Homo sapiens: one gene and its partners. The protein of the gene in region 1 purifies or fractionates together with the protein of each later gene. This does not show direct contact. Each region holds a gene or a part of one and is shown in the gene's direction. Other genes may lie near its edges.

Evidence for each region.
Region 2: the proteins of SLC25A40 (region 1) and SQLE purify together in Homo sapiens (co-immunoprecipitation; one large-scale study listed by IntAct). This does not show direct contact.
Region 3: the proteins of SLC25A40 (region 1) and FHOD1 purify together in Homo sapiens (co-immunoprecipitation; one large-scale study listed by IntAct). This does not show direct contact.
Region 4: the proteins of SLC25A40 (region 1) and TUBAL3 purify together in Homo sapiens (co-immunoprecipitation; one large-scale study listed by IntAct). This does not show direct contact.
Region 5: the proteins of SLC25A40 (region 1) and HIGD1A purify together in Homo sapiens (co-immunoprecipitation; one large-scale study listed by IntAct). This does not show direct contact.
Region 6: the proteins of SLC25A40 (region 1) and CHDH purify together in Homo sapiens (affinity purification with mass spectrometry; one large-scale study listed by BioGRID and IntAct). This does not show direct contact.

What each region holds. Positions count from the first base shown.
Region 1 is NC_000007.14:87,832,004-87,836,111, reverse strand, and holds the end of SLC25A40 (mitochondrial glutathione transporter SLC25A40), read left to right. Parts: 3' UTR 1-2,544; downstream 2,545-4,108. UniProt on the Homo sapiens protein: Probable mitochondrial transporter required for glutathione import into mitochondria. Glutathione, which plays key roles in oxidative metabolism, is produced exclusively in the cytosol and is imported in many organelles.
Region 2 is NC_000008.11:125,007,520-125,012,480, forward strand, and holds part of SQLE (squalene monooxygenase), read left to right. Parts: intron 1-1,451; coding exon 1,452-1,565; intron 1,566-1,652; coding exon 1,653-1,824; intron 1,825-4,017; coding exon 4,018-4,113; intron 4,114-4,961. UniProt on the Homo sapiens protein: Catalyzes the stereospecific oxidation of squalene to (S)-2,3-epoxysqualene, and is considered to be a rate-limiting enzyme in steroid biosynthesis.
Region 3 is NC_000016.10:67,236,721-67,241,681, reverse strand, and holds part of FHOD1 (FH1/FH2 domain-containing protein 1), read left to right. Parts: intron 1-2,227; coding exon 2,228-2,334; intron 2,335-2,714; coding exon 2,715-2,779; intron 2,780-2,796; exon of another isoform or gene 2,797-2,869; intron 2,870-3,234; coding exon 3,235-3,302; intron 3,303-3,374; coding exon 3,375-3,480; intron 3,481-3,553; coding exon 3,554-3,648; intron 3,649-3,913; coding exon 3,914-4,025; intron 4,026-4,112; coding exon 4,113-4,207; intron 4,208-4,299; coding exon 4,300-4,443; intron 4,444-4,567; coding exon 4,568-4,716; intron 4,717-4,948; coding exon 4,949-4,961. UniProt on the Homo sapiens protein: Required for the assembly of F-actin structures, such as stress fibers. Depends on the Rho-ROCK cascade for its activity. Contributes to the coordination of microtubules with actin fibers and plays a role in cell elongation.
Region 4 is NC_000010.11:5,397,421-5,402,381, reverse strand, and holds part of TUBAL3 (tubulin alpha chain-like 3), read left to right. Parts: intron 1-1,294; coding exon 1,295-1,538; intron 1,539-4,961. UniProt on the Homo sapiens protein: Tubulin is the major constituent of microtubules, a cylinder consisting of laterally associated linear protofilaments composed of alpha- and beta-tubulin heterodimers.
Region 5 is NC_000003.12:42,797,295-42,802,255, reverse strand, and holds part of HIGD1A (HIG1 domain family member 1A, mitochondrial), read left to right. Parts: intron 1-4,961. UniProt on the Homo sapiens protein: Proposed subunit of cytochrome c oxidase (COX, complex IV), which is the terminal component of the mitochondrial respiratory chain that catalyzes the reduction of oxygen to water. May play a role in the assembly of respiratory supercomplexes.
Region 6 is NC_000003.12:53,817,460-53,822,420, reverse strand, and holds part of CHDH (choline dehydrogenase, mitochondrial), read left to right. Parts: intron 1-644; coding exon 645-774; intron 775-1,812; coding exon 1,813-1,947; intron 1,948-2,746; coding exon 2,747-2,889; intron 2,890-3,380; coding exon 3,381-3,483; intron 3,484-4,225; coding exon 4,226-4,644; 3' UTR 4,645-4,961.

The sequences.
Region 1 (4,108 bases):
TACCTCTAAATCATAATTTTAAAATAAATTTTATCTTATTTTTGGTGATATTGAAAAAGATATTCTAGAAATCACCACCATTGAGCATTCTTGTAAAAATAGATTACTCCTTAGCATCAAAAGCAGTCTCTTGAAAGTTTAATATTATATGTTTCAGTGTAACATAATCTTACTGGGAGTGTGTTGAATACACCAGAACTTTTTGAATTGTGTGCTGAATGATGTACATAGTCTAGAAGAAAAAAGCCCAAGTCTTGTGCACATTTAAATCGTGTACATAAGTATTTCCGTATTTCAGTAAAGTAGATAAAGCACTCGTTAAATAGCATTGTTTACATCGACCAAATATTGCCTGTTTCCTTTAATTCAAATGCATTAGGTTCCCGCCTCCCTCTCCTTCCCCGCCATGTTGCTGTTTTAAGGCTTCATATGTATTAACATTTCTCTGATCAAAATTGTGGCTGTTTTCCTTATGAACCATAATATAATCATTTGTGTGATGTACATTGTGCCATTTTTGATGACTAAATGTCTATATTTCTGCCATTCCTGTAAGAGAGGGAGTTTTTTACTGATAGTAGCAAATGTTCACTTCAGTCAAACTTGGGTGTTCAGTGGTAAACCATATAGTATTTAGACTGGTAAAAATAGTTTGCACACAGGAATAGCCTCTGATTTTTAGCTCTCTTGTAATCCAAGTATCATTGTTCATGGAATTCTCTAGGTCATTTTTATTGTGTTGTTCTAACAAGACAGATTATTGCTACAACAATAGTTACAAGATATTTCTAAAATATCCTTTGATTTTTACTCTAAGTATGGTAGAGTAAGAGGCTAAACAAGAAGCTGTTTCCTTGAAGACATTGCTTTCAGTCACCATACATGTCTAAATAATTTAGCTTATCATTCATTCTATGTAGGAATGAGATAAGAAAGGATATGATGGCAGGAAAAGAAATGCTATTCATTTTTTATACTTTAGTTTTATTTTCTTAGGATCTATATCCTATATATATATATTTTTTAAAGCACTAATTTATTGCAGTCTTTATTTTAGAAAAATGTGAAGCATTTTTTTCTCCCCTAAAATGAATATATTTAGATGACAAGTCTTTAGTGCTGGTAGAGGAACTAATTGATTTTGTACTATAGTAGGAAAGTGTTTATATGTTTCACCAGAAATAAAATATGTAGGGTTTGTATGTAATCTTCTGTGTTTATCCTATGTTGATTTACCTTAAATTTGCAACATACATATCCACATAAATATTCATGACTTTCTTATATTTCATTAAAATGTTTTATGGCTTCTTAAAATCATCACTGTGCTTCTAAATATTTTTACGTAAAATCATTGTATAATGCTATACTGTGATATACATGAAAGTTTATCTTGAACAGTGCTCTTTAACAATATTAAATTTAAATTTATCTTGGTTTTGCTATGCTTATGGGTAATTCATAGAAAACAGAAAAAATACTGTTCCCAAAAGGCAGTTATATATTTCAGTTTAATATCACCTATAAGTATGAGAAAGGTTTCCATGTCTCCTACCCCTCACTGCACTTAGGAAAATTCTTATTTATGAATAAAGTAAGATAAGTAAATCTAATTGCCTAGTCGTTTTTTTAACACATATACATGCAATGTATCTGGATGAATAGAAGGCTGAATTGAAGCTTTCTTTATATTTAAGAGGTAAAAAGAAATATTAATACTTTTAAAATATACTAACAACCAAAAAGTGTTCAGAATTTTGCTATAATAATAATTTGTATTAAAATAGTACCTAGAAAAATTCAGTCTATGGAATAGGTAAAATTTTAAAATTTTAATTTGCTCTCAGAGTTCTGTCTGATAAAATAATTGAACTATAATTGGCATGATGAATATTCCCAGGTTTTACTTCAGTATATAAATTTAACTCTCAGCCACATGGGCTTTCCAGACTTTTCAATACATATGATGTTGCAGGAATTGCAATATTTGCAAACATGTGCCACAACAGTGTTCTTGGTGATGTTTCTAAAACAGTTTTTATTCTATTAATGTTAAATTTTCTAACATAAACATTTAATTGATTAATGTAAAATTTTAGGAAGGAACATCTTTAATTTTCAATATGAGATGGTTGCAACCTTTAAAGTAGTACATATTTGATTTTTTTTAAAAGGCAATATTTTTTTTTCTAGGAAAACTATTCATTATGGTTATTTAACTGCATATGTTTTTTAAATTTTTCCCTCTTGGAACAACATGTACTGGGGCCTATCAAAGGGTGGAGGGTGGGAGGAGGGAGAGGAACAGGAAAAATAACTAATGGGTACTAGGCTTAATACCTGGGTGATGAAATAATCTGTATAATAAATCCCCATGACACAAAAGTTTACCTGTGTAACAAACCTGCATATGTACCCCTAAACTTAAATTCTTCCCTCTTTTTGTCTTGGGCACAAGTTTTTGGGATATGGAAAAGTTTATTGTATCCCTTTTGAATTTTCTTCTAAGATGAACTTTTTAAATAAAAGATATTACTGCTTTTATATTTAATCTGTCAACATTTATTGGGACATTTTATGTAGTAGGCAGTATATAAAAAGCACTGGAGATGATAAGATATTTCAGATATTGTTACTGGCCACAGGAGGTTTCAGAGCTATGATTGAGTGATTGATAGAAACATACAAAGGGAGTCATGGGAAATATGGGGAGTTGTTCACTCAGCCTGGGGGCAGAGAAGGGGAGTGGTCAGGAAACCTGAGTTGGACTGACAGACAGGCAATCCAATAAGTAAACATGCAGGGAAGTGGGAGTCTCAATAAGGCAATAGAATTTAGTCCATATGGCTTGAACAAAGTGTATACATGGGAAAGTGTAAACATGGAAATGTAATCTAAGGCCTTGTGCGCTTAAGGAGGAACAAGAAGGCTGTGAGAAACCTAGGAAAAACTTTTTGGCAAAGTTGTAACAGTTAGTTAGACTTGGGTTTTGGAAGATACCCAGCAGTATGGAAAATGGGGCTTATGATAAGGTGATCTATGTTAAAATCTAAAAGTTTTGGTTTGTATTAAAATATGCTTTTTAAATGTACCATAATGAAAAAGAGGTAATTTTAGCTTCCCTTTCCTATCAATCAGTTAAAATGACAAATGCTAAAACTAAATCGAAGCTGCTTTGCTTTCAGAAGAGCAGAATGAACAACAGTCTTGTGACACTTAAGTGGTAATCCAATATGTTAGTTTAGTTTAGCAAAATCTGCACATTTCATCTAATGATAGGAACTTTAACAAAGCAGTTTTCTAAGTTGTAAATTTGGGACACATTGATAACCACTTAAAACTGTATGTAAATCTAATGATTTAACAACTAACTTATGATCTACTTTTTCTGCCACTCATAATTAGTAGTAGCTTGCATTTGGCATTTATCTCTTTAGAACTTCTTTTATATATGATTTTATTTAATGCTTACATCATCCTGATGCCATCTCTTAGGTGCCAAGAAGATAGTGATGATTCTTACAGGTGAGAAAACAAACATGACTATTTTATAATTAAATCAGTAACACTGCCAGAACCACTACTAAACTGTACTGATTGATTGAATAGATGTTGTGTATTCTAAAGCATATCATGTTACTTTTAAAAAATAGGATATTTAACTTGATGTGAGTTGAAATAAGGATTTCTCCCATTCCATTTTCATGTTAGTATTTTAGGTGTGAAATAATATATATTTACCACATTTGCTGAAACAAAAGTTAAGTGTACTTAAATCAGGTAACTTTTTGTCAAGCAAAATAAGACCACCAATGCATAGTACAAAATTTTTAATATACATGCAACAAGTATAGTACGCATCAAGGCAACAGAATACACATGGAAATATTGGCGTATAATTCAGCATTCTTTTGGAGGCAAGAGGGAGGGTGAACAATAAACACTACCACCTAAAATTAAAGATTGAGACATACATGGTTTCCTCATGCAAACAGTAACAAACTACCTTTAGTGTGAAACGAACTCTGTAGAAACCTGATTTTATAACAGCAGATGAATTTTATACCAAGATCTCCAAGAAAGGAGGAAAAGTCATGATCCTCAGATG
Region 2 (4,961 bases), on another chromosome or scaffold:
AGATGTTGTTTTTCCTGCTTTTTCACTTACCCCTTTAAAAAAGTAGGCTTACCGGTTTACATGTTGAGTATCTCTTATCTGAAATGCTAGGGATCAGAAGTGTTTCAGATTTTTTATTTTTTTCAGATGTTTGCATTATACTTACCAGTTGAGCATCTCTAATCTGAAAATCTGAAATTTGAAATGATCTAATGAGTATTTTGTTTGTCACATTACTGCTCAAAAAGTTTTGGATTTCAGATTTTTGGATTAGAGATACTCAGCCTGTGTTATTTATCAAATGAACTGAGTTCTTTCTAAGCCATATGCAACAGGATGGGTTTCAGATTGCAACACATTGTTCTTTAGAGGACTTCAGAATGCTATGCAAAAAACATTTTAAACAGAACTAATGTGAATAGTTTTTGAAACAGTAATATACATCAGCAGAGAAGCAGAGGGGAACTAGCAGGGGAAAGAAGGCAAGATTCAACATAAAAGAAATGATTCAGATAAAATGAGCAATTTAACTCAGGTAATAGTAAGAGAATCTTTTTAAAAACAATTTATCCTTTTATTTTATTTTATTTTATTTTGTTTTATTTTTTGAGACGGAGTTTCACTCTTGTTGCCCAGGCTGGAGTGCAATGGTGCGATCTCGGCTCACTGCAACCTCCACCTCCCAGGTTCAAGCGATTCTCCTGCCTCAGCCTCCTGAGTAGCTGGGATTACAGGCATGCTTCACCGCATCCGGCTAATTTTGTATTTTTAATAGAGACGGGGTTTCTCCATGTTGGTCAGGCTGCTCTTGAACTTCCAGCCTCAGGTGATCTGCCCACCTCAGCCTCCCAAAGTGCTGGGATTACAGGCGTGAGCCACCGCACCCGGCCAATTTTTCCTTTTTTTAAAAAAAAATTATCGTAGTAAAAAACATGTAATTCTGGACTGCTCCCCATAGGGTTACCACCTCTTAGAAATTGTCCTCTAATGAAGGTGACTGGAATGTTTTCTCTGCTCATACTGTAGTATTATAAATACATGTAGTCATTTGTACAAAAATTCTTCTAAGCCCTAGCTGCTGACTAAAAGCACTATATGAAGTTAGGAAATTTTAGAATGAAAGAATCTGGCTAGTCCCTTGAATTTGTAATGAGATTGACTGCTCTGTGTTACATGCCTGCCTTGTAGTTGTTTCCCCCATTGTCTGTCAAAGTGGAGAGTAATCCCAGATGGTTTGCATGGGAGGGCTACAAAGGGAGATGATCCTCAGGGACTCAGAGGAAGTATCTAAACACTGGTCATGCGTTATCTGAAGCCCACGTAACAGTTTCTTCAATAGTATTATCTTCAACTACTCTCTATAATGCTATCTGATAATATATCTAAATCTCTTCACGCACATTTTTTAAGAATGGCTTTTTTTACTGTGTGTTTCTGACTACTAAACTGAGTAGTCTTCATTTCTGTTATAGGAACTCCATGCTCCACTGACTGTTGTTGCAGATGGGCTTTTCTCCAAGTTCAGGAAAAGCCTGGTCTCCAATAAAGTTTCTGTATCATCTCATTTTGTTGGCTTTCTTATGAAGGTACTGTAGGAGTGTGTTATTGTAATTTCAATAAAAGAAACTTGAAATTTGAAAATTATTAAAACATTTTCTTTTTATTTGTTTTAGAATGCACCACAGTTTAAAGCAAATCATGCTGAACTTATTTTAGCTAACCCGAGTCCAGTTCTCATCTACCAGATTTCATCCAGTGAAACTCGAGTACTTGTTGACATTAGAGGAGAAATGCCAAGGAATTTAAGAGAATACATGGTTGAAAAAATTTACCCACAAATACCTGGTAAGAAATAGCATCTTCAGTTCTTACAAAGGCTGTGTCTAAAATAGGCCAGAGATAAGGATGGCAGGTGAAACATTCATCCAGTCAACCAGATATTCTGGAACTGAACTATTTAAACTAGCACTTAAAAACAGCAAAACAAACTCCCAAATTAATAAAAAAAAGTTTCGGGCCGGGCACAGTAGGTCATGCCTGTAATCCCACCACTTTGGGAGGCTGAGGTGGGCAGATCACCTGAGGTTGGGAGTTCAAGACCAGCCTGACCAACATGGAGAAACCCCGTCTCTACTAAAAATACAAAATTAGCCGAGTGTGGTGGTGCATGCCTGTAATCCCAGCTACTCAGGAGGCTGAGGCAGAAGAATCGCTTGAACGGGAGGCAGAGGTTGTAGTGAGCCGAGATCGTGCCATTGCACTCCAGCCTGGGCAACAAGAGCGAAACTCCGTCTCAAAAAAAAAAAAAAGTTTTGATATGTTTTTGTCACATAATAGCATAGTTTTTAGAATAATTGTTTTTATTGGCATATATGGTATTTTTAAAGGTAGTCTCTGGACACGAATCTGACTCTGAATTCTTTATCTCTTATACCTAAATATTTTTGTGCTTGGTTTTTGTAGTAATGACAGCTACCATTTCTTGAATGCTTACTATAAAGTGTTTAGCAAACATAATTTCATTTAATCTATGTAACCACTCTGTGAGGTAGGCATTATCATTATTCTCATTTTACAGATGGGAGAACTAAGGTTCAGAGAGATTAGTTAGCTCCTCCAAGTATAAACTATTAGTAATGGCAGAACCAGGGTTGATATCAGGTCTGTCTGGCTCATATGTGCCTGTTTGAACAGACATGTCCTGTCCGCAGAATGTGAGAATTGTAAGGGATCTTCAGGATCATGTTAGTTTTGAGTTGAATATAAAGGCTTCATGAGATTTAGATAGCTTTGTAAAAACATTAATAAAAATTACTTTTTCACAAATCTAAAGTTTTCATGGTACAGTTTTTAGGATCTTTTTTTGAGAATGGGATGATATAGGAAAGAAAAGTAAAAAAAATTTAAGAATTTTGATAAAATTGAAGGGAAACCCTCATTGTCAATTATGATATGATTAGAGTAATAGGAAACTATTTTTGGTATGAGTACATTTTGTTTAAATATTCCGTTTTTTTCAAGTTATTTTTTAAACTAAGTGAAACCACTTTAGTAACAAATTATTAACAGAAATGAAGTGAAATGAAGTGGGCAAACTTAGATTTTAAATAATGACATTTTCAACATGTACATGGAAACATTTCAATAAATTTTCATTTAGTTAAGCCACTTTTGAAGCTTTCAGATGGGGAAATTATGAATATTTATGAAAAGGGTCATCCATTACCTGATATTTTTAGCATTTATTTTTCTTTTATTGTAAATGTGGTGGTTTTTCTTTTTTTTTTCTTTTTTCCAATCCAGAGGTTAATTGGAGTAGAGTGCCCTGAAATTATGGAGAGAAACCATTGGTAGGTTTATATTAATATTAGTTAGATTACCAAAATTCTACTCCTTAATATGAATGGAATAATTTTTAACAGAGGCTTCTGCTCCTCTATTCCCAGATCACACTGGGAATTGTATGACAGTTCATTTTCTATATAAGTAGCACAGAAATTTAAAGCTTGTTTGGAAGTATCTCAGAGATGAGCTGATCAAACCATTTCATTTTTATAGATGAAGAAATTGAAGCTCAGAGAGGTAGGGCTGGCCTCGAATTCCTTTTCTAGTGTACATACCCTCCTGCTGTTTGTGAATTGGTAGTGTATTTCATCTGATTATTACAAGAATATATTGATTATAATACATTAAATATTAAATATGACAGTAGTCTGTTAACATTTGGAAGAAAGGTAGGTGGTTTTCTCCCTGTTTCATTTCATCTGAATTTGCCTCATTGTTTTTTCATTCAGTTGTATGTATGTTTATATTAATGTTCTCTTAGATTCCTTAGTCATTCCTTGGCATTAACAGCTAAGTGCTTAATGAATAATTTTATTAATGAAATAATTAGTTCTTGATTTATCACAAGGGATATATGTAACAACCATAACAGATGTATAGTAGGCATTTGTTTATACTTGATAAGAAAATATGTGATACTTTGAAATTGAAGTGTTATGACCCATTTCTTTGGGTTGGTGGGATTTATTGCAGATCACCTGAAAGAACCATTCTTAGAAGCCACTGACAATTCTCATCTGAGGTCCATGCCAGCAAGCTTCCTTCCTCCTTCATCAGTGAAGAAACGAGGTATTATTTTTTGGGCTTATTTTATAAAGGAATCAGTATTCCAAATGACAAATATATGATTAAATTTATACTGTTACGAATAACTTCTGGGACAGATAGTTTGTCACTGTGGATTAGTGCATTATTAATACCAAAATTAGTTTTATGATCTATTTAGTTGTTAACATTGAGTGTATACAAGTATTGTGCTAGTCAGGGAAACAACAGGTAAAAAACTGACCTTGACCTAGAGAAGGCAATTTTCTACTTAGGAATGTAGACAGATAATTTTACAACACTGTTGATAAATAAAACCCACAGATTCAGTGTCAAGAAGTGTGCAGAGCAGGGAGGGAAGCTTGTGAAATGGGAGGGGTAGTTAGGGAGGACGTTGTTCAGGAAACAGTGGAAACAAAGGACCTTGGACCTGGAGGATGAGTGGGAGTTCATGAGGTGGACACTAAGATGAGGAACTTCTAGGTAGATGGAATAACATTGCCAAAGGATGAGAAATGGTGGCACTTTCAAGGAACTCAAGCAGTTTCCTATGGCAGGAGCATAGGGTGGGTGTCAGAGTGGGAGACAGACCATTAACATTTAATCTTACAGACAATGGAAAGTCATTTGAAGTGTTTTCTTGTTACTAACTTTATTGATATATAATTCACAAATCAGTTTGCCCATTTAAAGTGTACAGTACAGTGACTTTTTTAGTATATTCACAGTGTGTGCATCACCACCACAATCAAATTTAGAACATTTTTATCTTGCCCAAAGAAACCCCGTACCCATTGGTATTCACTCCCCATTTCCTCCCAACACTCAGCCCTAGGCTACCCCTAATTTACTTTCTGTGTCTAGATTTGTCT
Region 3 (4,961 bases), on another chromosome or scaffold:
CATTTGTGAGCTTTTTCTGACTCGTCTGTCTGTCTTCCCGTCTGCCCCACTGGGCTGGAAGGAAGGGAAGGCAGAGGCAGTGTCTAATTCCTCCTAGGTCCTCTGCATCTGAAACCAGCCTGGTCATGAATGTTCAAAGAATGAGCTGTTCTATATGTGTGTGATTCGAGGGGATCCCTGACGGGGGTGGCTCTGGGGTAGGTGTGTTCTTCTAGGGTCCCAGAATCTTCCAGGCCAAGGGAGGGAGATGCGGCTGTGCCTGAATGGGGGTGGGGTGGTAGGCTGCTGAGTCACTGTGTGGGAAGAGATCAGGAGGAATGTGGGTTGCCCTCAGCTGAGCTGGCCCTGGACAAGATACCCCAGCCCTCAGGCCTTGCTGCCCCTTCTCAGGCCTGTTCCCAGTAGGCCCTGGAGAAGATGACTCTGCTCCCAGGGAGGGGAAAGTGGCCAGGCCTGCCCAAGGCACCCTGGGGAGGGCAGGCAGCCAGGCAGGAAGTGGGACAGAGAACAGGCTGGAGTGTTTGTCCTATGTCCCAGGTCCCAGGCGGGGGTGGGCGGGGGGGGGGGTCATCCAAGGGCCCCACAGGCTAAACTGTGGGGAAGGAGCCAGGTCAGGCTCTGAGGCAGGCGCAAGGGTTGCTAAACAGAGGTAGGGGTTGAGGCAGGAGCTGGACTCCCTTTTTCTCCAGGGGACCAAGGCCAGTTGGAAGCCCTTGGGCAGGGTCCAGAAGAGGGCAGGGCTGACCAAACAGCAGGACAAATGTTGGAATTGACATGCCCAGTAAGATGGAGACCAGAAGACACCCTGCCTCTCCAGAGGTGGGCTCTCCCTGGGCCAAGGCATCTCAAGGGCCAGAGCCACTTAAGTCAAGGAGACTTTGCTGAACCTGCATATCTGCACTGTGCAATGGAGGGAGGTGTCTGGGAGAGGTAGAGTGCCACCCTCCGACTCACAGGAGTCACCTCCCTCAGGCTTCTCTACAGGCACTTCTCAAGGGGCTAAGTGCCATGCCTTGTGGCGGGGGAGGAGAGCCCGGGGAGGGAAACATGGACACGTGGATGGAGCATGTGCCTGCTTGTTACAAAGGCAGGCTTTGGGGTCCTACTGTAGACTGAGTCAGACTCTTAAGTGTTTTGTTTTGTTTTGTTTTTTGAGACAGAGTCTCACTCTGTCTCCCAGGCTAGAGTGCAATGACATGATCTCGGCTCACTGCAATGTCTGCCTCCTGGATTCAAGCAATTCTCCTGCCTCAGCCTCCCCAGCAGTAGCTGGGATTACAGGCACCCGCCATCATGCCTGGCTAATTTTTGCATTTTTGTAGAGACGGGGTTTCACCACGTTGGCCAGGCTGGTCTAGAACTCCTGACCTTAGGCGATCCACCCTCCTCAGCCTCCCAAAGTGCTGAGATTACAGGCGTGAGCCACCACGCCTGGCCTAAAGTTAGTTTTTTAATAGGCCCCTTGGGTGTCTCTGAGGTCCAGCTAGGACCATTGTAACTGTAGCCCACTTTGGGAGAGGCCAAAGACCCTGAAATCTGGTGGGACTGGGAAGTCTATGGATCAGACCCTGTCTTCACCCTCTTACTCACTGAGACACACACACACACAGACACACTCTCCCGGGTGGGTTTGCACCTCCCAGCCATCTTAACACTTTCTTTCTGGGGCTTAATGCTTTGTGACTATAGCTTATCACCCCACAGGGCTGTGAGCTTCCTCGAAGGCAGGAACTTCCTCCCATCTTCTCTCCATTCCCCTTCCTCATCTGTGTTTATTAGCTCAACAAGTCCTAGTGAGTGCTTACTGTGTGTCAGGTGCTATGCCAGGCTCTATAGATACAGCAGGGAGCAAGACAGACGGAGTGCCTGAACGCAGAGAACGCAGCTAGAGGAGACCAGTGGCTCGGATATTAGAATGCTGTGTGGAAGGTCTCGAAAGGGAGCATACACACAGGGTGGAGTGGGTTGCATAGCAACCTAAAGAATAGGTAGGTATCAGCCAGGAGAGGAGATGGTACAAACAAAGGCCAAGAAAGCCTGGTGCCTGACACAGATGGGCTTTGCACATAGTAGGTGCTTGAGAAGCAACTGCTGAAGGAATGCACAGCTGTAGTGCAGACCCTGTGTCTCTCTGCCACCCTTCAAGTGGTAGGTAAGAGGTCAGGGGTCTTCATACATTCGCCTGCCACCTCTTCCTCAGTCTCACAGCTGTTCCCTTTGCCCCCAGTTGGAGGATTGTGCTCTGCAAGTGTCTCCCTCCGGATACTACCTGGACACCGAGCTGTCCCTGGAAGAGCAGCGGGAGATGCTGGAGGGCTTCTATGAAGAGATCAGGTCAGAACTGATGGGGCCAGGGAGGCAAGGTTACCCCCACCCTTGCCAGGGGCTAGCTCAAATGTCAGCAGCTGAGACACTCGATCACTAGCCTGAGCCATGGGTCACCTCCTGCCCCAGGGAAGTGTGCCAGGGGAATTCTAAAGCCTGGCCAGTGTTACCTGCTGCCCAAGGTGGGAGTTAGGGGCTCTCCCACATACCTGAGATACATGTGTTTGCACCAACCCTCTTGTCCGACCAACCCTTGGGTTCTTGGAGGAGCAGCTGGGAGGAACAAGCTGGGCTGGGGCTGGCATGGGGAGGTCTTTGGCTCCCTTGGCTTGTGGGGAGGAATGCTGAGGGATAGGCTGGGAGCTGCTAACAGAGATCCTTGATTCCAGCAAAGGGCGGAAGCCCACGCTGATCCTTCGGACCCAGCTCTCTGTGAGGGTCAACGCTATCTTGGGTGAGTGTGTGAGAGCATCCATGTCCAGCAGCACCTCCTCCCCATAGCCCAGTTGGCTCACCTTCAGGCCTGTGCTGAACAGTGAGCAAAGTAGGTTTAGCTGTATGTGCTCCTTCCTCTCCCTATCCTGACCTCTTCTTCCAGGGCCATGGTGGGAGTGGAGGGGGATTCAAGAATGTTAGAATAGACCAGGCGTGGTAGCTCATGCCTCCAATGCCAGTGCTTTGAGAGGTCAAGGTGGGAGAATTGCTTGAGGCTAGGAGTTTGAGGTTGCAGTGAGCTATGACTGTGCCACTGCACTCCACACTCCAGCCTGAGTGACAGAGTGAGACCCTGTCTCTCAGACCAAAACATATATATTAGACTATTCTTTGGTGGAGAGTTGTGGTTGTATCCAAGCAGAGGAAGACAGTGAGTCTGTGTCCATCAAGGGTTTTATACCCTACCTTTTGCAGAAAAGCTGTATAGCTCCAGTGGTCCTGAGCTCCGCCGCTCCCTCTTCTCACTGAAGCAGATCTTCCAGGTGAGGCCCCGCAGTGGGCTGGGGGTAAGTGTGTAGCCCAAGCTTCCCTAAACTCCCCCATGGTGCCTCTAGGAGGACAAAGACCTGGTGCCTGAATTTGTGCATTCAGAGGGGCTGAGCTGCCTGATCCGTGTGGGTGCTGCTGCCGACCACAACTACCAGAGCTACATCCTTAGAGGTCAGCCCCGCCCCTCTCCCATGACCTCTGCTCCAGCGACCCTCGCTGACTCTGCCCATCCCTGTTTCCCCAGCGCTCGGCCAGCTGATGCTCTTTGTGGATGGAATGCTGGGGGTGGTGGCCCACAGTGACACTATTCAGTGGCTGTACACATTGTGTGCCAGCCTGGTAAGTGGCTCTCCACTCAGCCTTATACCCTTTGCCTGTTGCTTCTCTCTGGGCCTCAGTTTCCTGTTCTGCAAAGTGAGCTGGAAGGGAGTGAGTCTGAGGCCTCTGTAAGCCTATAAGGCACTTCAGTGCCTGGGCCTGGGGCCAGGGTCATTCTGCCTAGATTCTCTCTGGGTCCAGCCCCAGCAGCCCTTCCCCTTCCCCAGCAACAGCTGGCACAGGTCTGGCCTAAGCCCCACTCATATGTACTGACCTCTCTCCTCAGTCCCGCTTGGTGGTGAAGACAGCCCTGAAGCTGCTGTTGGTGTTTGTAGAATACTCCGAAAACAACGCACCGCTGTTCATCCGTGCAGTGAACTCTGTGGCCAGCACCACCGGTCAGAGACTGTCCCTTTCTCCCCCCACCGCTCAGAGCCCTCTCTCCTACCTGTTCCCCCATGACTGCTCCACTTTCTGTGTGGCAGGTGCTCCTCCCTGGGCCAATCTGGTGTCCATCCTGGAGGAGAAGAATGGCGCTGACCCTGAGTTGTTGGTGTACACGGTCACCCTCATCAACAAGGTGTGGCCAAGGACTGGGTGCCAGCTCTGGGATGCTCAGGCTCCTGACCTCCCCACCAACCTCAGCCTTGCCTTCTTATCCCCGCCCTCCAGACGCTGGCGGCGCTCCCGGACCAGGACTCCTTCTACGATGTGACGGATGCACTGGAGCAGCAGGGCATGGAAGCGCTGGTCCAGCGCCACCTGGGCACTGCGGGCACTGACGTCGACCTGCGCACGCAGCTTGTGCTCTACGAGGTGGGCCGGGCCTTACGCTCTGAGGCGGATTGGAAAGAGGGAAGAGAGAAGCGCAGTCCCCAGCGCCCCACCCCACCTGCATACACGTTAACCACTTTCTTACATCCTGGTCCGCCTCTGCTAGAACGCCCTGAAATTGGAGGATGGAGACATCGAAGAAGCCCCAGGCGCTGGTGGGCGGCGGGAACGACGAAAGCCTTCTTCTGAGGAGGGCAAGAGGAGCCGCCGTTCTCTGGAAGGCGGGGGCTGCCCCGCGCGTGCCCCGGAACCTGGGTAAGTACGAGCATCTGTAGATGGGAAAGGGTGGATCTACTAGGCATGGCCCAGTGAGCTGACAGGCCCTGACCCCAACCCCCTCAGGCCCCGCCCCACAGACAGCCCCCACCTCCTCCACTGGGCCTGCCCTACCGACATGCCCCACCTCCCGCCCCGCAGGCCCCACCCCACTGACAGGCCCCGCCTCCAGCTTCTCAGGCCCCGCCCCACTGACAGCCCCTGCTTTCAGCCCCACAGGCCCC
Region 4 (4,961 bases), on another chromosome or scaffold:
AGTCAATCAAACCACACCAATATTAAGAACAGCGATTGCTATCACCTCAGATTTCTTAGAATTTAGCTTTTACTTTCCTTCTCATTTTTTTTCTTTCCTTCTCTTAAAAACGTAGATCATTGTCTGTTTAACAGAATAGTTGTTTGCCTTAAAAAAAAGATGATTTAAAGTGGGATGGGGGAATATGAAGGTGGAAGAAATAGTAAAGTTTAGACAAGAAAATAAAATCACTACCCAGATATTACTAAACTTAATATCTTGATGCATTTTCTTTTAGATTTTTATGCCTATTTTTGAACATATTGGACATCATACTCTATATGCAATCATGCATCTTATGTGCTTTTTACTTAATATGTTATCATAAGCATTTCCCATGTCATAAATCTTTTTTTTTTGGGAAAACGTTTAAGGGTTGCATAACATGTCATTGTGTTGATGTAACATCCTTTAAATGCTCAACAATATATAAATGGTTAGATTAAATAGATTGGTTTTTGGTTTTCATGCTTATGAATTGTGATGCTTGTGAATGCCATCAGCCTACATCCTTGCATTTTAGAGTCTTTCTTTTGTAATTTGTTTGTTTATATCATTTGCCTAGCTAGTGGATGTCTTAAGTGTTTTTTTTTAGAAAGTTGATGTATATAAAATCAATTTTTATCTCTATATGTTTGTTATAAAACTTTTACATTTTGGAACTGTTAAATCTATTGCATTTTGCCTTGTAAAATTTCCCACTAGTTTTAAGTTTAGTATATCCATCCTTATTCAGAGTGCATATGAATGGTAAAGATAACATTTTAAATTTATCTGCGATGAGTTTTAGTACTTGACAAGGCTATATATTGATTTTAGTTTTATTTCTTTCCAATAACTAGCTAATTTTATTTCTAGACAAGCCCACTTGATATATATAACTACACGCACACACACACACACACACACACATCTCACCTATATTGAAAGAATAAAGTAAAATTAGTTGTATTTTGATTTGCATTGTGTGTGTTTGTCTTAATTCAATTCTTAGCCAAGTACAGAGTAGGTGCTTAATTTATGTTGTTAAAATAAACTTTTTAATGGAATTTAAATCCCAGGTTTAATTTTCCCTGAAGCTTAGCTGTACCCTGGGTCTTGGTTTCCATGAAACGCTTTTGATTATCCTTATAACACATTCCTCCGTGGCCTTAAGCTAGCTTGGTTTCTGTCATTTGTAACCAGAAGGGCTGAGTAACAGATCTCCTGTTTTCTAAACACCTGCTCAGTTCCAACTCACCATGACTTATTTTAGAGGGAGTGCCTTTCCATCCACATCGGTCAAGCTGGCATCCAGATTGGGGACGCCTGCTGGGAACTCTATTGCCTGGAACATGGAATCCAGCCAAATGGCGTTGTTCTTGACACTCAACAGGATCAGCTGGAAAATGCAAAAATGGAGCACACAAATGCATCTTTCGATACCTTCTTCTGTGAGACAAGAGCTGGGAAGCATGTGCCTAGAGCACTCTTCGTGGACTTGGAGCCAACTGTTATAGGTACAATAAATGTTCCATTCTAGCATACTTAACTGGAGCCACACTCAAACAAATCAAGTGGATGGGATTAGCAGATTATACAGGTCTATCTGAATGGAATCACATGGACCTTTCCCAAATGTAGAGGCTTACTCAGTGGCCATGGGTGATTAACATGACAAACACACCCAAAGGGAAGACCAGATTAGTGTTTTTGAATTTAAATTTATTTATTTATTTATTTTGAGATGAGTCACTCAGGCAGGAGTGCAGTAGCGTGATCTGGGCTCACTGCAACCTCCGTCTCCTGGGTTCAAGCAATTCTCCTGCCTCAGCCTCTGAGTAGCTGGGATTACAGGCACACACCATCATGCCTGGTTAATTTTTGTATTTTTAGTAGAGATGGAGTTTCACTATGTTGGCCAGACTGGTCTTGAACTCCCGACCTCAAGTGACCCACCTGCCTTAGTCTCCCAAAGTGCTGGGATTACAGGCGTGAGCCACCACACTTGGCCTAGGTTAGCCTTCTTTACCTGTGTGATGAAATGAATTAAGACCTGCTAATTGATCCACACATATATCATAATAGAACACTAAGTCTTTTCCTGGGTTTGAGAGCCATTTGCTAGAAGGCACTGGCAAAGAATCAAAAAGTTTTTCGATAGCTGCTTAAAAAGAGTAGAATATTTGAAAAGAATCCTAAAGGAAAAAGAGGCCAAATATATACCCTAGTTATGGGAAAAACAGTACAATTTTATGATTACTAACAATAGACTTGTAGTATGTCATGCAAAAACTCTTGAAATGGAGCTAGAAAAATAAAGGAGAGAGAAGGGGCTCTTACTGACTTAAGAGAAAAGCTAGACAGTGGGGTAGATTTGGGTTTGATGTTGTGCATCCCATTATTTGTTGGCGTGTAATAAACTTCCCCTACATTTAGTGGTTTAAGGCAATAATGATTGCTGGTTTGTTCATGAATCTACAGTTTGGGTGGGGCTCAGAGGTGACAGCTCGCCTGTGCTCCATGTGGTACCAGCTTGGAAGGCTCAAGTGGGAACTGGGGCATCCACTTTGAAAGTCACTCATTTACATCGCTGCCCCTTGGTGCTGGCTGTTGACTGAGAGAGTGGGAGGGGTGGAGAAAAGGAGAGGCTGACGAATTCAAGGTCATGATAAGAAGGAATTGAATACAACCCCATAAACACTTCAGCTGGGTGATAGAAGTACAAAGATGAATAAATGTTGATTTTTGCCTTCGACGTGAAGATGCCTGTCTTGGTCAACTCGGACTGCTGTATTGGAACACCATGGACCCGGTGGCTTAGACAACAGTTGTTGATTTCTCACGATTCTGGAGGCTGGAAGTCTGAGACCAGGGTGCCTGGTGGTTGGCTTCTGGTGAAGGCTCTCTTCCCAGCTTGCAGATGGCTGCCTTCTCACTGTATTCTCATATGGCAGAGAAATAGTCTGTGTCTCTTCTTATAAGGGCCCTAATCCCATAATGAAGTCTCTACCCTTATGACCTAATTACTCACAAAGACTCACCTCCAGATACCATCACATCAGGGATTAGGGATTCAACGCATGAATTGTGGGGGGACACAGCCATTTAGTCCACAGCAGCTATTGTTTACTAGTTGGGGAACTGCACAGGTATTTTCCTCTAATTCTTTCAACACTCTGTCAGGAGACATTATTATCATCCTCAATTTATAGATGAGGAACTTTATAAATCTTGGGGAAGTCAAGGAACTTGCTTAAGATCACTGAGTTATTAGAGTAGAGCTGGGTTTGGTCCTAGGTTTGCCTTCTTATTAAATCTATTGTCTTTTAACAGGAAAGTAGCCTAATCTAGTGAATAAGAAAAAATAAATAGTTATAACAACACTGTTGAAATTGAGCCATATAAAATTGCCAGTATATGACTATTTTTTAATCTAAAAAAGTTAATTGTATTGTATATGATACAACTTAATAGACATTTCTACAACAAGTGTGTCCAATAATTTGACCTCCCTGGGACACATTGGAAGAAGAAGAATTATCTTGGGCCACACATAAAATATACTCACACTAACAACAGCTGATGAACCAAAAAAAAATATTGCAAAACGATCTCATAATGTTTTAAGAACGTTTACCAATTTGCGTGGGAATGCATTCAAAGCCATCCTGGGCTGCGGGATGGACAAGCTTGCTCTGCAAGGCAGAAGGAATGAATAACCGGGGAGTCATCCAATATGTTTGTTTGTTTGTTTGTTTTTTAGAGCGAGAGAGACTGGGTCTTGTTCTGTCACCCAGGCTGGAGTGCAGTGGCGTAATCATAGCTCAGTGAACTCCTGGGCTCAAGCAGTCTTCCCACTTTGGGGTCCTGAGTAGCTTGGACTACAGGCACATGTCACTACATGTGGATAAGTTTTTTTTTTTTTTTTTTTTTTTTTTTTGAGACAGAGTTTTGCTCTTTTTGCCCAGGCTGGAGTTCAATGGCACTATCGCTGCTCACTGCAACCTGTGCCTCCCGGGTTCAAGCAATTCCCCTGCCTCAGCCTCCTGGGTAGCTGGGATTACAGGCACATGTCACCATGCCCTGCTAATTTTGTATTTTTAGTAGAGACAGGGTTTCACCACGTTGGCCAGGCTGGTCTTGAACTCCTGACCTCCAGTAATCCACCTGCCTCGGCCTCCCAAACTACTGGGATTATAGGCAAGAGCCACTGCACCCGGCCAATTTTTTGTTTTTTATAGAGATAGGGTCTCACTATATTGCCCAGGCTAGTTTCAAACTCCTGACCTCAAACAATCCTCTCACCTTGGCCTCCCAAAGTGCTGGGATTCCAGGCATGAGCCACCACACCCAGCCTCACACACCTTCTCATGAGGTGACAGCATTTGCAAATTCAGAGTCATGAAGGAATGCCCCGCAAGTGTAACCAGGAGTTCAGCTTGGCCAGGCATAGGTGTGAGCAGGAGCTCAAAGCAGGGGATGAGTCTGGGAAGATGGTCTGGGGCAGGCTCAAGGGTGAAGTTAGGGCAAAGTGAGGAAGTTGTGGTCAGAAAAAGGAATTTGCATGTTTAAGATTTTGGAAGTGGGAGAGTTCTGAGTGATGATGATTGAAGTGGAATGCAGCTGACTGACACCGTAGTTAAGGAAGCTAAGGAGCCATCATGTAATTGTTCAAAAGCCATTGATGTCTCTGAGGATATTGATTAAGGGCACCATGCTGGGTAGTAAAGCCCCTGAGCAACCTGTGCCCGGGAAGTTAGAGTGGATGGCATGGATTACTTATGAACGGCAGGTGCTGCAACCACTATGCCCTGAGATAATGGATTTTATGGAAATAAATTATGAACCTATTGACCCTCAAGATCCCGACTCAACATTGTCATGAAGAAGGAAGCTTCCGTAAATTACCTTCTTAGCCTGAATGCAGCCTTATAGCTTCA
Region 5 (4,961 bases), on another chromosome or scaffold:
GAAGAACGGAGAAATAGGTTTTCTTCTGTTCTTGATTTATATACAGGAAAGAGACAACTAACCCCCTCCCTCCTGAAAGGAGAAAAAAAAAAAAACCTTTTGCTCCATTGACCTGTTGGAGAATTAGAGTCAGCCAGATGTGAGATAATTATAAGAAAAACTACCAACTTTCTTGCTATTTTTAAAAAACGATTTATGTCCTGTTTTTGTTTGTTTGTTGGGTCCCTCAGCAAGGGTCTTGCCTGTTGCCCCGGCTGGAGTGCAGTGGCTGGATCATGGCTCACCGCAACCTCCACTTTCCAGGCTCAAGCAGCCCTCCTGCCTCAGCCTCCTGAGGAGCTGGGACTACAGGTGTGCACCACCATGCCCGGCTACCAACTTTCTTGCTTTTAAAGACAATTCCCAAATGATTTTTTAGTTTAGAAATGATTCAGGCAAAAAAGGGGAAAACATGCTTTTATATCTGCAGAAGTTTTTAGTTTTTAAAAGTGGATTATGGTATATAATAGTTTTGTCCCCTGTGTTGCAAGGAACTAAGACCTCAGGTTATTTCTCTTTTCATAGGTACAATATAAGAAACATAAAAGAAATAAGCACTTAGGTACATACAGTTAGGCATTTTTCTTACTGATTAAACTCTACAAATCTGTATGATTGTTATTTTTTTGTACTCAATATTACTGAATAACCTAAGAATGCTTTCAGTTGTTGAGAAATGTAACTTTTAAATGTATTCAAGAAACATTTGTAGTGTACATATTATATATAGGGTATTGCACCAGGCAGTGGAGTTGGATACAAGCAGAGCAGGTATTGGTCCCTGACTTGAAGGATTCTAGCAAAAGAAACAGACAAACTGGTGCTTATAAGGGTTATAAGGAAAGTACAAGGTCCTATGGGACTGCATAACCAAAGCACTTACGAACTTAAAGAGACAAAAATTTCTGAGAGGAGGTCAATTAAGATGTGAACCTGAGTCCAGTATGGTGGCACCCAGTGGCAGTGTGAACTGTGAGGAGTTCGCCGAGTTCCAGGAATTACTCAAGGTGATGTGGACAGTTGATACAGACTAGTACATTAATTAAACACTACAGTTCCAACAGCTTCCTTTGCAGGGAAGATTGATGCCAGCCAAACCTGTAAACAACTTTGAGTCTTTGATGGCAGCTCATGCCAGTAGGGACAGAGTCATAAAAAACTATATAGCCCAGACCTCAGCAGTAGTAAAAAACCTCTGAGAAGAGAGAGAAAAGAATTTGGACGATTTAATATTGTTAAAGCAACTCAGAACAGAGCAGGCAAAGTTGAAATGGATGTAGTCAGAATGATAAATGACAGGAGCTGGAAGGAGTTTAATGAATGCTGCCGAATTCACTTCAAACCTCCAAATAAACAGAATAAACGGAGATACTTTTTTTTTTTTTAAAGGACCGGGTCATCTCATAAGAGCTAAGCATGACAAATGTCAACAGGGCGGGCTTCCTAGGATGATTTCTGAGCCAGTAGTCCAAGACCTTTTGTTGATTTCAGCCCCACTTAGGCAAGACCTCAAATATAAATAATTCTGATAATTATGGAGAAATCAACTGCTATTTTATACTGATTCTGTTAAAAAAAAAGTTTTGTAACTATTAAAATAATGTTCTGACTCAGTGTAAAAAAAGAAAAACCAAACCTGAAAAAAAAAATGGGAGGAGTTAGCTAGGAAAGAGTATCTGAAGGGGATGGAAAGGGAGGGAAACTCTCACAAGTAGAGGAATCAGCTTGTGCAAAGGCTTAGAGGTATAGAGAGCATCTTAAAAATATTTAATGTGGTCAGAATGTGGGGTTGGGAAGGGAAATGAAAGGATTTGTGATAAACTTCCCCTTTGAGAAGGTCATGTTTTTTTTTTCTTTTTCTTTTTCTTTTTCTTTTATTTTTTAAAATTTGAGACAGAGTCTCTCTGTGGCCCAGGCTGGAGTGCAGTTGCACAATTTCAGCGCACTGCAACCTCTGCCTCCCGGGTTCAAGCGATCCTCCTGCCTCAGCTTCCCAAGTAGCTGGGATTTCAGGCATGCACACCACTATGCCCAGCTAATTTTTGTATTTTTAGTAGAGATGGGGGTTTCACCATGTTGACCAGGCTGGTTTCGAACTCCTGACCTCAAGTGATTGCCCACCTTGGTGCCCCAAAGTGCTGGGATTACAGGCATGAGCCACCGCACCTGCCCGAGAAGTTCATGATTAGATATGAAGGCAACTAGTAAACATACTGGCCTAAAATAAATACAGTGTTTAATCTCTCTATCCAGTCCATTTATGCAGTTTCTTCAAAGCCAGTCTCAAGTGTTTCTCTGTGAAACGTGCCAAACCTCCTTTAGCTAAAATACATCACTCTCTCTAAATTCAGACCTTGTCTGTGTTAGGCTTTTGACAACTAATTACACTGTGATTGAAACCACCATTGCAAAATTATAACTGAGACAGTGAAAGAGATCTGACCTAGCCAAAAAAAGATGGAGCCAGGCATGATGGTTCACGTCTATAATCCTAGCACTTTGGGAGGCTGAGGCGGGCAAATCACTTGGGGCCAGGAGTTTGAGACCAGGCTGGCCAACATGGCAAAACCCCATCTATACTAAAAATACAAAAAAAAAAAACCAGGCATGGTGGTGCACACCTGTTATCCCAGCTGTTAGGCTAAGGCACAAATCACTCAAACCTCGGAGGCAGAGGTTGCGGTGAGCAAAGATCGAGATCGTGCTCCAGCCTGCGTGGCAACTAGACCCTGTCTCATAAAACAAAAATAGAAAAATAAAGCAAAGATGGTAACAGCCCTTTCCTAAAACAAACCCCCTTCTTGCCTGGGGACTAGACTGCCTTTGTAGGTTTAATGAATTAGCCACAGATTAGAAATTATGGTTTAGGAGTCGTGCAGCTGGAAGTTATAAGATTCTTTTTTTTTTTTTTTTTTTTTTAATTTATTTTTTTATTGATAATTCTTGGGTGTTTCTCACAGAGGGGGATTTGGCAGGGTCATGGGACAATAGTGGAGGGAAGGTCAGCAGATAAACAAGTGAACAAAGGTCTCTGGTTTTCCTAGGCAGAGGACCCTGCGGCCTTCCGCAGTGTTTGTGTCCCTGATTACTTGAGATTAGGGATTGGTGATGACTCTTAACGAGCATGCTGCCTTCAAGCATCTGTTTAACAAAGCACATCTTGCACCGCCCTTAATCCATTTAACCCTGAGTGGACACAGCACATGTTTCAGAGAGCACAGGGTTGGGGGTAAGGTCACAGATCAACAGGATCCCAAGGCAGAGGAATTTTTCTTAGTGCAGAACAAAATGAAAAGTCTCCCATGTCTACTTCTTTCTACACAGACACGGCAACCATCCGATTTCTCAATCTTTTCCCCACCTTTCCCGCCTTTCTATTCCACAAAGCCGCCATTGTCATCCTGGCCCGTTCTCAATGAGCTGTTGGGCACACCTCCCAGACGGGGTGGTGGCCGGGCAGAGGGGCTCCTCACTTCCCAGTAGGGGCGGCCGGGCAGAGGCGCCCCTCACCTCCCGGGCGGGGCGGCTGGCCGGGCGGGGGGCTGACCCCCCCCACCTCCCTCCCGGACGGGGCGGCTGGCCGGTCGGGGGGCTGACCCCCCACCTCCCTCCCGGACGGGGCGGCTGGCCAGCCAGAGGGGCTCCTCACTTCCCAGTAGGGGCGGCCGGGCAGAGGCGCCCCTCACCTCCCAGACGGGGCGGCTGGCCGGGCAGGGGGGCTGACCCCCCCCACCTCCCTCCCGGACGGGGCGGCTGGCCGGGCGGGGGGCTGACCCCCCCACCTCCCTCGCGGACGGGGCGGCTGGCCGGGCAGAGGGGCTCCTCACTTCCCAGTAGGGGTGGCCGGGCAGAGGCGCCCCTCACCTCCCGGACGGGGCGGCTGGCCGGGCAGGGGAGCTGACCCCCCCCACCTCCCTCCCGGACGGGGCGGCTGGCCGGGCGGGGGGCCGACACCCCCACCTCCCTCCCGGACGGGGCGGCTGGCCGGGCGGGGGGCCGACCCCCCCACCTCCCTCCCGGACGGGGCGGCTGGCCGGGCAGAGGGGCTCCTCACTTCCCAGTAGGGGCGGCCGGGCAGAGGCGCCCCTCACCTCCCAGACGGGGCGGCTGGCCGGGCGGAGGGCTGACCCCCCCACCTCCCTCCCGGACGGGGCGGCTGGCCGGGCAGAGGGGCTCCTCACTTCCCAGTAGGGGCGGCCGGGCAGAGGCGCCCCTCACCTCCCGGACCGGGCGGCTGGCCGGGCGGGGGGCTGACCCCCCCACCTCCCTCCCGGATGGCACGGCTGGCCGGGCGGGGGGCTGACCCCCCACCTCCCTCCCGGATGGGGCGGCTGGCCGGGCGGGGGGCTGACCCCCCCTCACCTCCCTCCCGGACGGGGTGGCTGCCGGGCGGAGATGCTCCTCACTTCCCAGATGGGGTGGCTGCTGGGCGGAGAGGCTCCTCACTTCTCAGACGGGGCAGCTGCCGGGCGGAGGGGCTCCTCACTTCTCAGACGGGGTGGTTGCCAGGCAGAGGGTCTCCTCACTTCTCAGACGGGGCGGCCGGGCAGAGACGCTCCTCACCTCCCAGACGGGGTCTCGGCCGGGCAGAGGCGCTCCTCACATCCCAGATGGGGCGGTGGGGCAGAGGCGCTCCCCACATCTCAGACGATGGGCGGCCGGGCAGAGACGCTCCTCACTTCCTAGATGTGATGGCGGCTGGGAAGAGGCGCTCCTCACTTCCTAGATGGGATGGCGGCCGGGCGGAGACGCTCCTCACTTCCCAGACTGGGCGGCCGGGCAGAGGGGCTCCTCACATCCCAGACGATGGGCGGCCAGGCAGAGACACTCCTCACTTCCCAGACGGGGTGGCGGCCGGGCAGAGGCTGCAATCTCGGCACTTTGGGAGGCCAAGGCAGGCGGCTGGGAGGTGGAGGTTGTAG
Region 6 (4,961 bases), on another chromosome or scaffold:
GGCAGGAGTCACGCCCTCACCCCCAGACCCACGTGCTCATCCCTGTGATGGCGGGGGGAGGGGCGAGTAGCTGATGGCAGTGGGCTGGTGGAGGTGAAGAAGCCCCTAGTCCTGCCACCGAGAAAGGGCCTATGGTGTCAGTGCCCCTGTGTGCCATGCCTAATTCAGAGCTCTCCCCCAGTACCTTCCACACCATTTCAAGGCACCGATGTCACAGAAAGCTATAGGTTTAAAGCTATAGGTTTACACTAGAGGTTTTAAAACCCATAAATGTGATTGTACTCTATTTCTGTGTTGTTGGCAGGGGGTCTGATTGTTTTGCAGCTTCATGTGTAGATCTGGTTCACCGCTTGCTCTCTCTAAACCACCCACTTGAATGCCTGCTTTCATTTATCTCGTGTAAGCCCTCCCCTCCTGTTTCTAAGGCTGTCACTACTGTCCAGCTGTAGTTGCACCTGCTGGTTGCTTTCAAGTAGTGACTCAGTGAGTTTCCTCTCCTTAGCTCTGGGGCCTGTCCCGGGTGTGCCACAGGATTCTACATCCCAAGGCTGTGTTCTCATGGTGCTGGCTAGAGTAGGGCGCTGGTCTGTGAGTCAGGAGAACAGCTGGCTTTTCAGGGAGTGACCTGGCTGGACCTCTTCCAGGCTTATGCCAGCAAGGAGGTGATTCTGAGTGGAGGTGCCATCAACTCTCCACAGCTGCTCATGCTCTCTGGCATCGGGAATGCTGATGACCTCAAGAAACTGGGCATCCCTGTGGTGTGCCACCTACCTGGTGAGTCCCCTTCTTTACTGCTCCCCAGAGGCTGTCTCTGCTCAACAAAAGGCTTAGTGTATGTATCTTATTAGCATGAAGTGGGGAGGTGGTGGCAGTCAGTGATCCTTGGAACTATCACATTGTCCCCGAGAGCCCGAAGGTTTCCCAGGCCTCACTGGACACTGTCATCCCTGGGCCCCGAGTCTTGCATTGTTTTCCTTCTCCCTCCTCCGGCTGCCCTATTTCATTTGGAGAAGGGCACCCTGCAGCAGGGAGTATCTGCCCTGAAGCCCCACTGGGTCGGGCATGGGCGTGTCACCAGGGCAGCTCTATGGCGAGAGGGGTCCAGGCCTCGTCCTTCCATCCACAGGACTCGCTGGCTGCCCTGAGCATGAATGAGGTCAGCTCCGTGCTCCAGAGCCTGCTCTTCATGTTAAGATGTAAACTTTGTTTTATAAACTGTCTCTGATGCTCTTGAGGGTCGGGCTCTGTCTCTTGCCCTCCTTGATAACCCCACTCCGGGAGGGCTAGGCCTTTGTGCCTTTAGGCTTCATCATGAGGGGCCCGGGGAAGTGCTGCTTCATGATGTTGACCTGCCCAGTGTCCCAGTAGGCTTGGATGAATTCATGCAAGGACGGTGTAGCACGACAGGGCTGCTTCCTCCTTCCCCACGCTGGCGTGAGGGTGGGGCTGCTGTCTGCCCCTCTGGCCATCACCATCCAGCAACCGCTCACCAAGCAGTGCCTGCTGAAGGCGTAGGCCCTGCCCTCACAGAGGGGGCTGCTGAGCAGGGCTGACAAGGGGCACCCAGAGGCTGCCGTAGGAGTGAGTGACAAGGACAGGTGGCCTTGGCAGCATCCGAGGCAGGCCAGACTTGGCCAGGAGTGCACACATAGTGTCTCTGGGAGGCAGCCTTTAAGCTGAGACCAGGGAACTGAGCAGGAGCTGGTCCAGAAGATAAGGGAATAGGAAAGAATTTTTCAAAACCGGGGGGATATTGAGAAGCAGCTGAGCCCCCTTGGTAGCCATTTTCTAAACCACTCCTTCCCGTATCAGGGGTTGGCCAGAACCTGCAAGACCACCTGGAGATCTACATTCAGCAGGCATGCACCCGCCCTATCACCCTCCATTCAGCACAGAAGCCCCTGCGGAAGGTCTGCATTGGTCTGGAGTGGCTCTGGAAATTCACAGGTGAGCACGCTTACCAGTAACCTGGGAGGAGACTGCCTATAAGCATTGAGACCTCCTTCCTGAGGAGCTGAACAGGGGTTCTGGCCACTGGGTTTGATGCGGAACTATGCCATTTACCTTAGCCCTGAGCCTCAGTTTTTCCATCTTCAAAATGGGGATGCACAGTTTCAACCTGACAGGTTGAAGCGAGGACCAGAAACAATAGCACATGCCAAGGAGCTTGGCCCAGGGCCTGCTGGAGGTGAGACTCCTCGGGGCTTAGGGGCTGCTCCTCCTTACGGATGAGCAGGGATGGCCTTGTGCTGGACAGCAGGTGAGGTCCAAGGAGCCAGGAGAAAAGGTGGAGAGAGGAGACTTTGGGGCTAGACTGCAGAATCAGCATTCATCTTTCAACCTTTTCCATTTGATTTCTAGCTGTGCCTGGGCCAGGAAATGGTAGTTTAAAATCCTACCCATCCACTCAGTCTGTATTTCTCACACACCTAGTATGTGCTGTGTGCTGTGCTAGGTAGTGGGAAGAGCCGGTAAGGCAGGTGGCATGGGCAGTGGCAGAATTGGCCCTGGTAGAGAGCAGAGCTGATGCCATCCTTTTGGCAAATAGCTGACATTTTATGGTGTGGTGCTGGGTGAGCCCCCTGTGAGGGGTGAACAGATGTGGACAGGACTTGGGTCCAGGCACTAGAGTGGAGTCCGGGAAAAGGAAGAGGAGCGGCCAGGAGAAAGGAGGGAAACCAGGAGCAGCCGGCCCACCTGCCACGGCCTGACTGGCTCTTCTGCCTCATCCTCTTCTGCTTCTCAGGGGAGGGAGCCACTGCCCATCTGGAAACAGGTGGGTTCATCCGCAGCCAGCCTGGGGTCCCCCACCCGGACATCCAGTTCCATTTCCTGCCATCCCAAGTGATTGACCACGGGCGGGTCCCCACCCAGCAGGAGGCTTACCAGGTGAGCAGGTGGAAGAGCCTCGGCTTCCCAGGATGTCTCCTTCCCACCAGGAAGGAAGATGCTCCCATCTTCCAAGGCAGCATTCTCCCTGGTGCCATATGGCTGCAGAGTGGGGGACACAGAGGCCTGTCCCCTGCCTTCCAGCTGCCCAGCGTGTCAGTCTGCGTGGTGCATGCCAATGGTATGACTGTTTCATGCAGGCTAGGTACCGAGCACCAGAAATGGGACAAACAGAGGGGCTGACTTGGCTCTGGGATCACCACCTCTGAAAGCTTTGAGCCATGGAGTATGAGGCCAGGATGAAAGAGTGATTCCTTGAGGTGGTCTGTAATCACTCGTGGAGGTGGGTACCATGCGGGCAAATGCTAACATGCATCTGTTCCCCACTGATTCTGGAAGCAGAGGCCCACCCTACAGGTAAACCAGGGTTGACAGAGGTCACTGTGGATGTCTATGGAGGGACCGTCACTGCTTCCTCTGTGTTCTTCTAGGTACATGTGGGGCCCATGCGGGGCACGAGTGTGGGCTGGCTCAAACTGAGAAGTGCCAATCCCCAAGACCACCCTGTGATCCAGCCCAACTACTTGTCAACAGGTACTTCACCCACCTGTGTCTTCCTGGGCTTGAACAAACGAATGCCTTTGTGGGGTTCCTGTTTATCCCTGAATCATACCCTTGGACTACACTTTCTAGGACACAAGTGACCCTCTGTCGTCCCCCACCGTGTCACTTTAGGCTGTAAACTTGCATAGGCAGCCCCGTAGTGTCCTGGGACACATGAGATAAATGAAGTCCCAGGGTTTAGACAGTAGGGGAGATTTTCAGCTTTCAGAACAATCTGCCATGATGTGCAGGGAGACCACGCCATGCAGGTGCCAGGTCTGTAGGTAGAGCATTTTTCCTGTTGTCACTCTGAGCAGTCTCTAAAAGCAAATTCCATTCCTGGGCCTGCCTCTTTGCATGCAGCAAAAACGAGCACTACCCACTGGGCAGGTTTTGCCCAGCAGTGGCTGCAGGGTGCTCACAGCCCCACTGTAGCAGGGGCAGGGTGTGTGTACTTATCCCTGCCCTACAGATAAGTCAGATCCCTGATTTAAACCTGGGCCTCTGGGTGGGCTGTGTCCGTGTAGGATGCTACCTTTGAGCTACACGGTACAGTCTAACCCGCTGTGGGCAGGGACAAGCAGCCTGCTGGCTCAGTCCCCCATGGCCCTGAACTTTGTCCCCAAACACCATCCCCTCAGACAGCTTACAGAGCCTCTCCATGCCGTGAATCTTCCAGTGAGGCCAGCACGGGCAAAAGGAGGGGTCCTCACCTGTTTCTTCTCCTCGACAGAAACTGATATTGAGGATTTCCGTCTGTGTGTGAAGCTCACCAGAGAAATTTTTGCACAGGAAGCCCTGGCTCCGTTCCGAGGGAAAGAGCTCCAGCCAGGAAGCCACATTCAGTCAGATAAAGAGATAGATGCCTTTGTGCGGGCAAAAGCCGACAGCGCCTACCACCCCTCGTGCACCTGTAAGATGGGCCAGCCCTCCGATCCCACTGCCGTGGTGGATCCGCAGACAAGGGTCCTCGGGGTGGAAAACCTCAGGGTCGTCGATGCCTCCATCATGCCTAGCATGGTCAGCGGCAACCTGAACGCCCCCACAATCATGATCGCAGAGAAGGCAGCTGACATTATCAAGGGGCAGCCTGCACTCTGGGACAAAGATGTCCCTGTCTACAAGCCCAGGACGCTGGCCACCCAGCGCTAAGACAGTTGCTGCTGGAGGATGACCAGGGAAGCCCCCTGATAAGCCAAGAGGGCCAGCACAGCCCTTGCTCCCAGGCTCCTGCCTGAAACTATCTAGCACACTAGGACCCAGGTGGTACCCTACTCAGTGGCTGAGAATTGGATAAAGTCTTGGGAAATGAGACAAGTACTGGGCAGTGAATCCAGCTCCTTTTCCCCAGCCTTTCCCTGTGGGCCATTTGGGGAAGGCCAGCATTCAGCCTGAGATGTTCCTCCCTGCCTCCTGGAGGGACAGAAGGGGAGGATGGTTAACTCCTGCCGCATCCTTTTTCTTGTGTT